Regions from separate parts of the Homo sapiens genome. Here regions 2 and 3 are each linked to region 1. Evidence: fine-mapped expression QTL. A gene starts in region 1. Each other region holds a variant in brackets. All regions are shown on one strand. Distances are from middle to middle.

Evidence for each region. PIP is the estimated chance that this variant, and not a neighbour inherited with it, causes the effect. A credible set is the group of variants that fine-mapping cannot tell apart.
Region 2: its variant is the best candidate, but not a certain one, in a credible set for the expression of APPL2 in esophagus muscle (GTEx, PIP 0.57).
Region 3: its variant is the best candidate, but not a certain one, in a credible set for the expression of APPL2 in whole blood (INTERVAL, PIP 0.89).

What each region holds. Positions count from the first base shown.
Region 1 is chr12:105,235,010-105,237,509 of GRCh38, reverse strand. APPL2 (adaptor protein, phosphotyrosine interacting with PH domain and leucine zipper 2) reads left to right here and starts at 1,336. Exons shown (of 21, transcript NM_018171.5): 1 at 1,336-1,551. The coding sequence starts at 1,498. RefSeq lists an enhancer at 953-1,453 and silencers at 1,318-1,457, 1,508-1,757.
Region 2 is chr12:105,260,385-105,263,241 of GRCh38, reverse strand. No RefSeq gene overlaps it. Among named protein-coding and RNA genes, the nearest start is that of APPL2, 26 kb to the right of the region's middle. RefSeq lists a silencer at 945-1,119. The variant G/A (reference allele first, on the strand shown) is at 1,288.
Region 3 is chr12:105,124,997-105,127,853 of GRCh38, reverse strand. WASHC4 (WASH complex subunit 4) reads right to left here. Exons shown (of 33, transcript NM_015275.3): 11 at 1,727-1,850; 12 at 1,492-1,619; 13 at 565-725. Among named protein-coding and RNA genes, the nearest start is that of WASHC4, 19 kb to the right of the region's middle. The variant C/A (reference allele first, on the strand shown) is at 1,563.

The sequences.
Region 1 (2,500 bases):
TGGAGGCCATAAAATGGTTCAGGTCAGGTTGGCGCTGGCCAGACCAAGGGAATAATGGCCTTGGAGTTTTCAAGTGATCAGGCAGCATGCTACTATACTAGACTGTCAGAGGTGTCAGCAATGCAGATTGGGTCTTGATATACCTAAGAGGTCTCTGCAGAATGCAGAATTTATATATTACCATATCCCCTCTGTTGATTTTGGTGACACACATACTGCATGATTTTTTTTTTTTTTTTTGAGACGGAGTCTTGCTCTGTTGCCCAGGCTGGAGTGCAGTGGTGCCCTCTCGGCTCACTGAAACCTCTGCCTCCCGGGTTCAAGTGATTCTTCTGCCTCAGCCTCCCGAGTAGCTGGGATTACAGGCGCATGCCACCACGCCCGGCTAATTTTTGTATTTTTAGTAGAGACGGGGTTTCAGCATCTTGGCCAGACTGGTCTTGAACTCCTGACCTCGTGATCCACCCATCTCGGCCTCCCAAAGTGCTGGGATTACAGGCGTGAACCACCACGCCCGGCCAGTCTTATTAACTTCTAAAGAAGGAACTTCAGAAACCCTTGCCTTCCGTGTAAAAAGGTGTCACGTTCCACTTGCCAGTCTTCTTCCATCCCTCTCCCTTCCTTCTTTTCTTCCTCTGGCGTTTACTAACTGACCCTGGGCAGACCACTTATTTCTCTGGGTCCCATTTTCTCATCTCTAAATGACAACACTGGAACCTAGATTATCTAGCCCTTCCAATTCTAAACATTTGATTATGAAATTCTCCAAAATCACAAAACATAAACCAGGAGGACGAGACCTAATTATGACCACATCAAATAGCTGTGGTTTCCAAAGTGGTTATTTCTGATTATCACAGACGAGTCAGTTATCCAGCTTTTCTCCTCTTTTCTTTGTTCCCATAGCATAGGCGACCTCTTTGCTCTCAGAGCTGTTTCAGGGGCGTCGAAATTTATCTAGAAAAAGTGGTGTGGGAAGTGTGGGTTTTTCCTTCCATTAAAAGAAAAAATCTGTTCGCTCCTTCAACTCAAAAGGCTTTCTGGGTAGCCATAAGCAGATAAAACCTTATCTTTCTACCCTCGAGTTCCTCTTTTGGACTTCATATGCATTGACTTGACGGACCTTCAGCACAGAGAACAAACACCCGAAGGGTTCCCTCAGCAACGGGACTGGCACCCAGAGCCCCCCGCTCCCCGCGAGCCGGCGAGCGCAGGCGGAAGCGCGGGCGCCACATTTCCGGTGTCGGGACCGGAGCTCACCACACTTCCGGTTTCCCTGCCGGGCGCGCCACACTTCCTGTTGATCCGGCTCGGCCGGGGGCTGGGCCGGCGGGCAGGCGGCGGCGGCCACTGGCCAGGCGTGGACGCGCGCGGGGCCGCCGCGGGCACGGAGTGGCCGCCGCGTCGCCTGAGCCCAGAGCCGGGGAGTGCTCTCGGCCGCCGCGTCTCCTGCCCTCTGTCCTTCCAACCCAGCCCTCGGCTGAGCCGCGCCGCACCATGCCCGCCGTGGACAAGCTCCTGCTAGAGGAGGCGTTGCAGGACAGCCCCCAGGTACCTCCCGCCGCTCCGGTGCCCCTCGCCCGCAGGGGTGAGGCCGAGGAGGCCCCTCCAGCCCCGGAGTGGAGGCCGCGCCCCCGGCCGGGCAGCCGCGGGAGTGCGCCCGGCCCCCTCGCGGCGCCTCCCACCGGGTTCTCTCGGGCTGAGGAGGGGGCGGGCCGGGCCCTGAGTCCTGAGCCGGGGCAGAGCTGTGGAACAGGGGAGAGAGCCCCGCGGCCGGAGTCTTGATGTCGTGACCCCCCTGCAAGCTCAGCTGCAACTGAGTCTGCGAGATCTAAACTTTGATTCCATGTAGTAGCTGAGTGCCTCAGGAAAACCACCTTATTGTGCCTTAGTTTTGTCGTCTGTAAAATAGGAATAATAATTGTGCCTGCTTCATAGGGTTGTTAGGAGAAGTCAATGAGAAATACCTGTAAAGTTGTCAGCAGACAATGTCCGGTACAGATAATGAGTCAGTCTTATTACTGCTACTCCTAATGATGTGATGAGACTTGTGCCAGCCAGAATGAGAGGCAGAGGGCCTGGATCTCTTTTCCGGCGGTACCAGGCCTCCTTTTGGCACCGTTTTCCCATTAGTGAAGAGAAAAATACAGTACCTGCCCCATTTGTCGCACAAGGGAACTTCATTAGCACACTCGAGATGAGAGTCAAGTCCTTTGAGCTCTGCAGATGAAAACTGGTGTGTAAATATAGCAAATGAGTGCAGGATGACATTAGTTCATAATTCAGCACATCTTTCCCCAGGGGTCTTTTGTTCTCCTTTGTTTAACATTTCTCCAGCTTCGTACCTACACTCCTGGTTCAGCATCCCGGGTTTATTTAAATAAGTGCCTTTATTTCCTAGTGTCTCAACTCTTGAAAACTTAGAATAAGATTAACCTATTTTCGTTTCACACTTTCCCCTCTCTTTTGGGGTTCCTTCCCTTTTTCTTCTAAGTGAATA
Region 2 (2,857 bases), 26 kb before region 1:
ACCTGTAGCAGGAGTTGCCAGCTGGTTGACAGAGACCTTTCTGCCTGTGTTAGTGTTTCGTGTCTTATTCAGTTGATCTTCAAATGGGTAGCTGCCACCATATTCCTTTTCCTACTGATTTCCAGGATTCCCAGCTAGGCAGAATCTGAGTGGTCCAACTCTCAATCTGTACACTGCTCTTAGGGCCCCAGAGAGCCACAAATAGACTGCAAAGCTGTCAGCCAGCCCCTAGGTTGTGCCCAAATTCTGTCTGGCCTGTGTGTATGTCGGCGTGTGGAGAGGTTGCTCTGCATTCCCCAGATACCCAAAGAGATCCCTAAGCCACAGAAACATTAAATCCACTGCTCATCTGCATGAGAAAAATGCAATGAGGGAGAACCCCTGACAAACAACTCTACTTGCAAAAGTAACACCTGGGATCATATCGAGTCCACATAAAATGCTTACAACTATCATATAGATTTTGGAGATGAATGTTAAGTGCTCGACAAATATTTGTTAAATGAATAAATGAGAAATTATCCAGCTCCCCATCCCCTGCATATTTCATGGTTGAGAAAACTGAAGCCCAGATGGGTTCCATATTTTGCCCAAAGTGACATATTTAGAATGTGGCAATGTTGAGCCTCAAGCCAAGATCTTTCAACTTCAATAACTGAACTCTCCACTTCAGTACACATCAGATTAAAGAACATATTAAGGAATATTTGCCACAAACGTAAATATCTTACTGGGATATTAGAATGCAATAATGGTAATAGCTAACATTTCCCTAGTACTCACAATGTGCCAGCCAATCACTTCATCCTCTCAGTAACCTCATGAGGTAGGCACTCTCATTACCCCCAATTTACAACGACGCCCCTGAGGCACAGAGTGGGTAAGTCAGTTATCCAACGTCACACAGAGTGGCAGTGGCAGTAGTCAAACCTTGGATCTGCATGCTCAATGCCACCCAGCCCCTCAGACTGAGTTTGTTACTTTGCAACCTCTTATACTGGAAACCTGGGCACAGCTTGGGTACAGGAAGACCCTAGCCAGGAGGTTGATGGGTTCTTAGCAGTCAAAAACAAAAGTTCCCAGGATGTGAAAGTCCAAAACACTGAGAAAACCCTACCTGACTTGTGAAATGAAAACCCTTTCCTTAAGAATGTAAAAGCAGAGGGAATTAACAGTACAAGTAAAAGGATAGAGAAAAAGCATTAAGCTCTCTAGAATACAAAACCAGTGGGCAATAAGACGTTTTACAAATTGAAGATGGCAGTTATTTATGTCTGTGAGACTTTT[G/A]TGGCATTTTCTTGACAGTCACATAATGAAATTATTTCAAAATGGGCCCTTCAAGTTTATTAGCATTAAAAAAAAACCCCTCCCCAACATGGAACAAAGAAGCCTAAAGCGGCTGCTACTTTTACATCATTTTATTTTGCCCTTATTTTTCCTGCTGAGAGTAGCATATTTTGTATACGGACCTTGTATTTTTCTCTTGTATGTACTCCAAGTTTCTCCGAGGCTCCCAAAGCAACCCCTGGAAGGTACATGTCACATGCTGGATGGTACATGTCACATGTCGCAGACTCAGCTGTACTACAGATGGCTGGATAGGTTTTCTCTTCTTCCCTGGATTCTGATGAACTAGAGTTACTTTGTTTTCTTTTAGGAAGCAATGCCTTCAAAATATTTTGCATCCAGTTTTGACATATGATGGCTTCCATATTTATAATTTTAGTTTTGTAACAGCACTGTCCCTGTTGTTTAAATTGTTATCCAAAGGCATGATGAAAGACATCAAGACTTGTCACAGTCAACTCTAAGTTTTCTCAGGTTGTACATGTGAGCTTATATGTACATTGGAGCAAAATAGAAAACAAAGTGTAATTTGAAACCTTATATGTACGTAGTGTAGGAAATAACTATATAGTTATATATATGCAAAAGTCCATATGCAAAAGAGGTTTAGTAACTGAGGGAACCAAACGTTCATAGGAATGAGAAAATCTGAGCTGCTTCTATAATAATGCCCCATGGCTTTGCTAGGCTACTTAACTTCATAGTTTCATTTCCCCATTTGTAATACTAAACTAGGTGAGATTGCTTTTATTGCCATTATTAAAGCTGTTTTTCAGGATCTCTGGTTACTCTCCTAATGAGATTTTTAGAGTTATTTTAGCATAAATTTCATATCAGGCATACATTAGCTTATTCCACAGTACAGTATGTTTAACCTGTTTCTAAAAATGGGACCCTCTGCCCATTAACCTTATGCTAGATTTGTTCTTCAACAGGAAAAGTATCCAATATTTCAGAGGAAAAATTTGGACTATAGCAATAAATGGCCTAGCCATGTTTTACTATTGAAATTAAAAAATAACCATTGTATTCCATTCTTTTTTTTCTGGTTCCTTGGGTGCACATAGATGGGAGGAGGCAAAGTACTTTCCCTCTCCATTTTTTCCTAATTCTTTGCTTGAATCCACATATTTGAGCCAAGAACCTCTTGCCTATAGCTGGGAATGCACCCAGCAGTTGATTTTTGGCTTGTATCTGCTTGTTTCTAAGAAAGTCCTCTTTATTCACCAAGGTCCCAAACAAAAGCTGTTCTCTGTTAGACCTTTCCAGACCATCCACCGTGACCCTCCAGAAAGTCACTCATCCCTTCCCCCATATCCAATAATACTTTGAAACTACCACTGGTACAGCACAGAAGCCATTATACCACTTTTATTTAGGGAAGAACTGTTCCTTATTTATCTTTGCATTCCCAATGCCTAGATTTATTGCATATGTATCAGTGTCAGGCATAATGCTAAGTCATGTTATTATTGACTGAAAAGAATACAGTGAGGTTTTAGGGACCTCA
Region 3 (2,857 bases), 110 kb after region 1:
TACAAAAAATAAGGATGTAAAAAAAAGAAGAAACAAAGAGTTAAAAGTGTGCCTTTGGAGAGCAAGACTGAAATACAGGAAGGAACTGGGAAGAATTATCTTTCCCTTTAAGCTTTAGCACTTTTTGATGTTTTATATACATGCATATACTATTTTCATAAAAATAAAAAGAAGGGGGAAAAAGGAAGCACATCAAGAAAAACTCAACCTCTCCCAAAATCACCATGGACACAGAATGTTTTTAATGTCATCAAATGATATCTACTGCAACAAAATCTGAGACTTCATTTGGACAAAAAATATTTAACACAGATGATAAAAACTATGTATGTACGCATTTGTATCCATAAAGTATAATCTGTCTACATCTTAAATTGACTTTAAGTGTAAAATATTCTTTACAAAAAACTTCTAGAAAACAAATCTCCTGGAGATTGCCTGACCCTTACTTATCAAGTACATTTAATCTTATAATTCAAATGGTACTATACATTAAGTGTTAGTATAATCTTTGAAAATAAAGGATATCTAAATATTTTCATTATACTTGTTTATAAAACCTACTTGGTAAGTGATTGAGCTTTCTGTTGTAGAAAAGTATCCCTGTGTATTTTAATGGCTTGAAGACTTTTTCTGTCTAGCAGTTTGGCAGCTGCTGGTATTTTCTGGATCAGAAAATTATCAGGAAACCAAATAATATTAGCAGTTAGAGTGATGGCTGGTACCTGAAACAGAAAAGGGAAAAGGGGAAAATTCATTAAATGCAGGCTAAACAACAAGCTGTTTAAAAGTTCTATAATACACATGGAAGACAACTGATTTCAAGAAAAAATAACCACAAAAAATACTTATTAATATATTATGAGACAAATATCTTTCACTGTGGCAGAGTTAAGGCATTTCTACATCTGGTGTTGAGCATGACAATTTTATTCACCTGAATATTAAATAACACACACACAAAACACCCTTTCATGGACTGTCAGATAAAAAAATGCAACAATAGAAACTTGAATCTTCATGTCTTTTAGTTTCATTCTATTTAAGTACATAAGTTTTTTAAAAAATTGGCTGGGTTATCATAGTTACTATCACTTGATGTTACACACAAACTAATCTTTCAATTTTGAAATCAGATACCACATTATGAAAATAGCAAAGACATAGAAAGAAATATATTTTAAATTTCTTCATCTTCAGTAATGAAAATCAGTGGCAAAGAAAAGGAAAAGAAAAAAGTAGTATTAGTAGCACTAAGAGAAGTTGTACAGGAACAAATCTGAACACCATCTACCAATATGTAGTAATATGATGTAGAAATACGACGTATTTTCATTCACTAAGTTACTTATTTCTGGAATACTTGAATTTTACAAGTGAATACTTTTAAATTATTTTTGTAAACAGGAATAAAATGCATTTTAAAATATTTAGTTTTATCTGCAATCTTTTTAATCTGCTCAAATTGAAAAATAAGTTTCAAGTTCTTACCTTCTTACAAATGTCCAATAAAGACTTATAAAACTTTTTATCAATAGTTCGAAAAATCTGAAAGTGCAATA[C/A]AAAGAGTCCACAAATTCCAACATACTTGTCTCTCTGGTCAATTTCAGAAGGTTCTCCTTACAAATCAATAACATAAGAGAAAGCAGAACAAATATACTTCAATTATGCTTTTAAGGAAATGCAAATTTTATAAACAAAAACCAAAAAATGCGATTTACATTACCAAGTTTGGCTTCTACATTTGCAAAAATTGACCGAATACTATGTGCAAATTCCTCAGCAAAAGTACTATTTTTTGACACAGATACTCCTCCATTGAGAGAATCAAATTGTTGTTCTATACAGGCCTAGACAGGAAACATTGAAAGAGAAATTCAGACTCTCAATAATAAACGATTAAACATTTAAATATCATACACTAAATACAGTGTATGATAAATTTCTATATTCATCATTTAAATTTTACTAAAACTAAAGCTCAGGTTCTTAATCTAATCTAATATTTAGATCTTTGTGAATGAAAAATATATATGTATTTATATATTTGGGTACTAGTTATGTGAAAGTAATAAAATTGAACCCAAATCTATAATCCTGTATAAAGAGATACACACGATGTTCAGAGATGTATAAAAGATAAAGCATATTTTTTATTTTACTTTGCACTTTTAAGAGTAGAATTTATGTTTTCTGCTTACAATTACTTTCCTAGCACTTTATTATAGCATGTATAGAAATGTCTCCTGGAAAAAGAATCAATAACAAAAAAATTATCTTCTTAACCTAATGAACTAACATTTAAATTGATATATAGTTGACGCTTAAACATAAAGTTAGGGACACTGACCCTCGTGCAGTCAAAAATCTTCATATAACTTTTGTCTACCCAAAAACTTAACTAGTAATAGCACACTGTTGACCAAAAGCCTTATGGATAACATAAGTCAATTAACACATAAATAGATTAGTATCTACATATATTTTATGCATTCATGACATACCTAACTTTTCCTCAAGTTTTTTTAATATTTCTAGGCTATGCCATTTGTCTGCAAGTTTTTTTCAAAAGTGTTGCTAATGTTCAAAAAATTTTCTAATACATTTATTGAAAAACAATCTGTATATAAGTGGACCCGTGCACACTTCAAAAGCATGTTATTCAAAGGGTCAACTGTAAACAAGAGTTGAGATCAATCGGTTAAAAACTGTGATCATGTAAAACATAAACTAAAGGTAACCTTGAAGTATATTATAAATGGAATATAATGCAATTTCGAGTGGAACCTGCTTAAAGCAGCGCTCTCCAACAGAACTTTCTGTGATGATGGAAATATTCTGTATCTGTGCTGTCTGA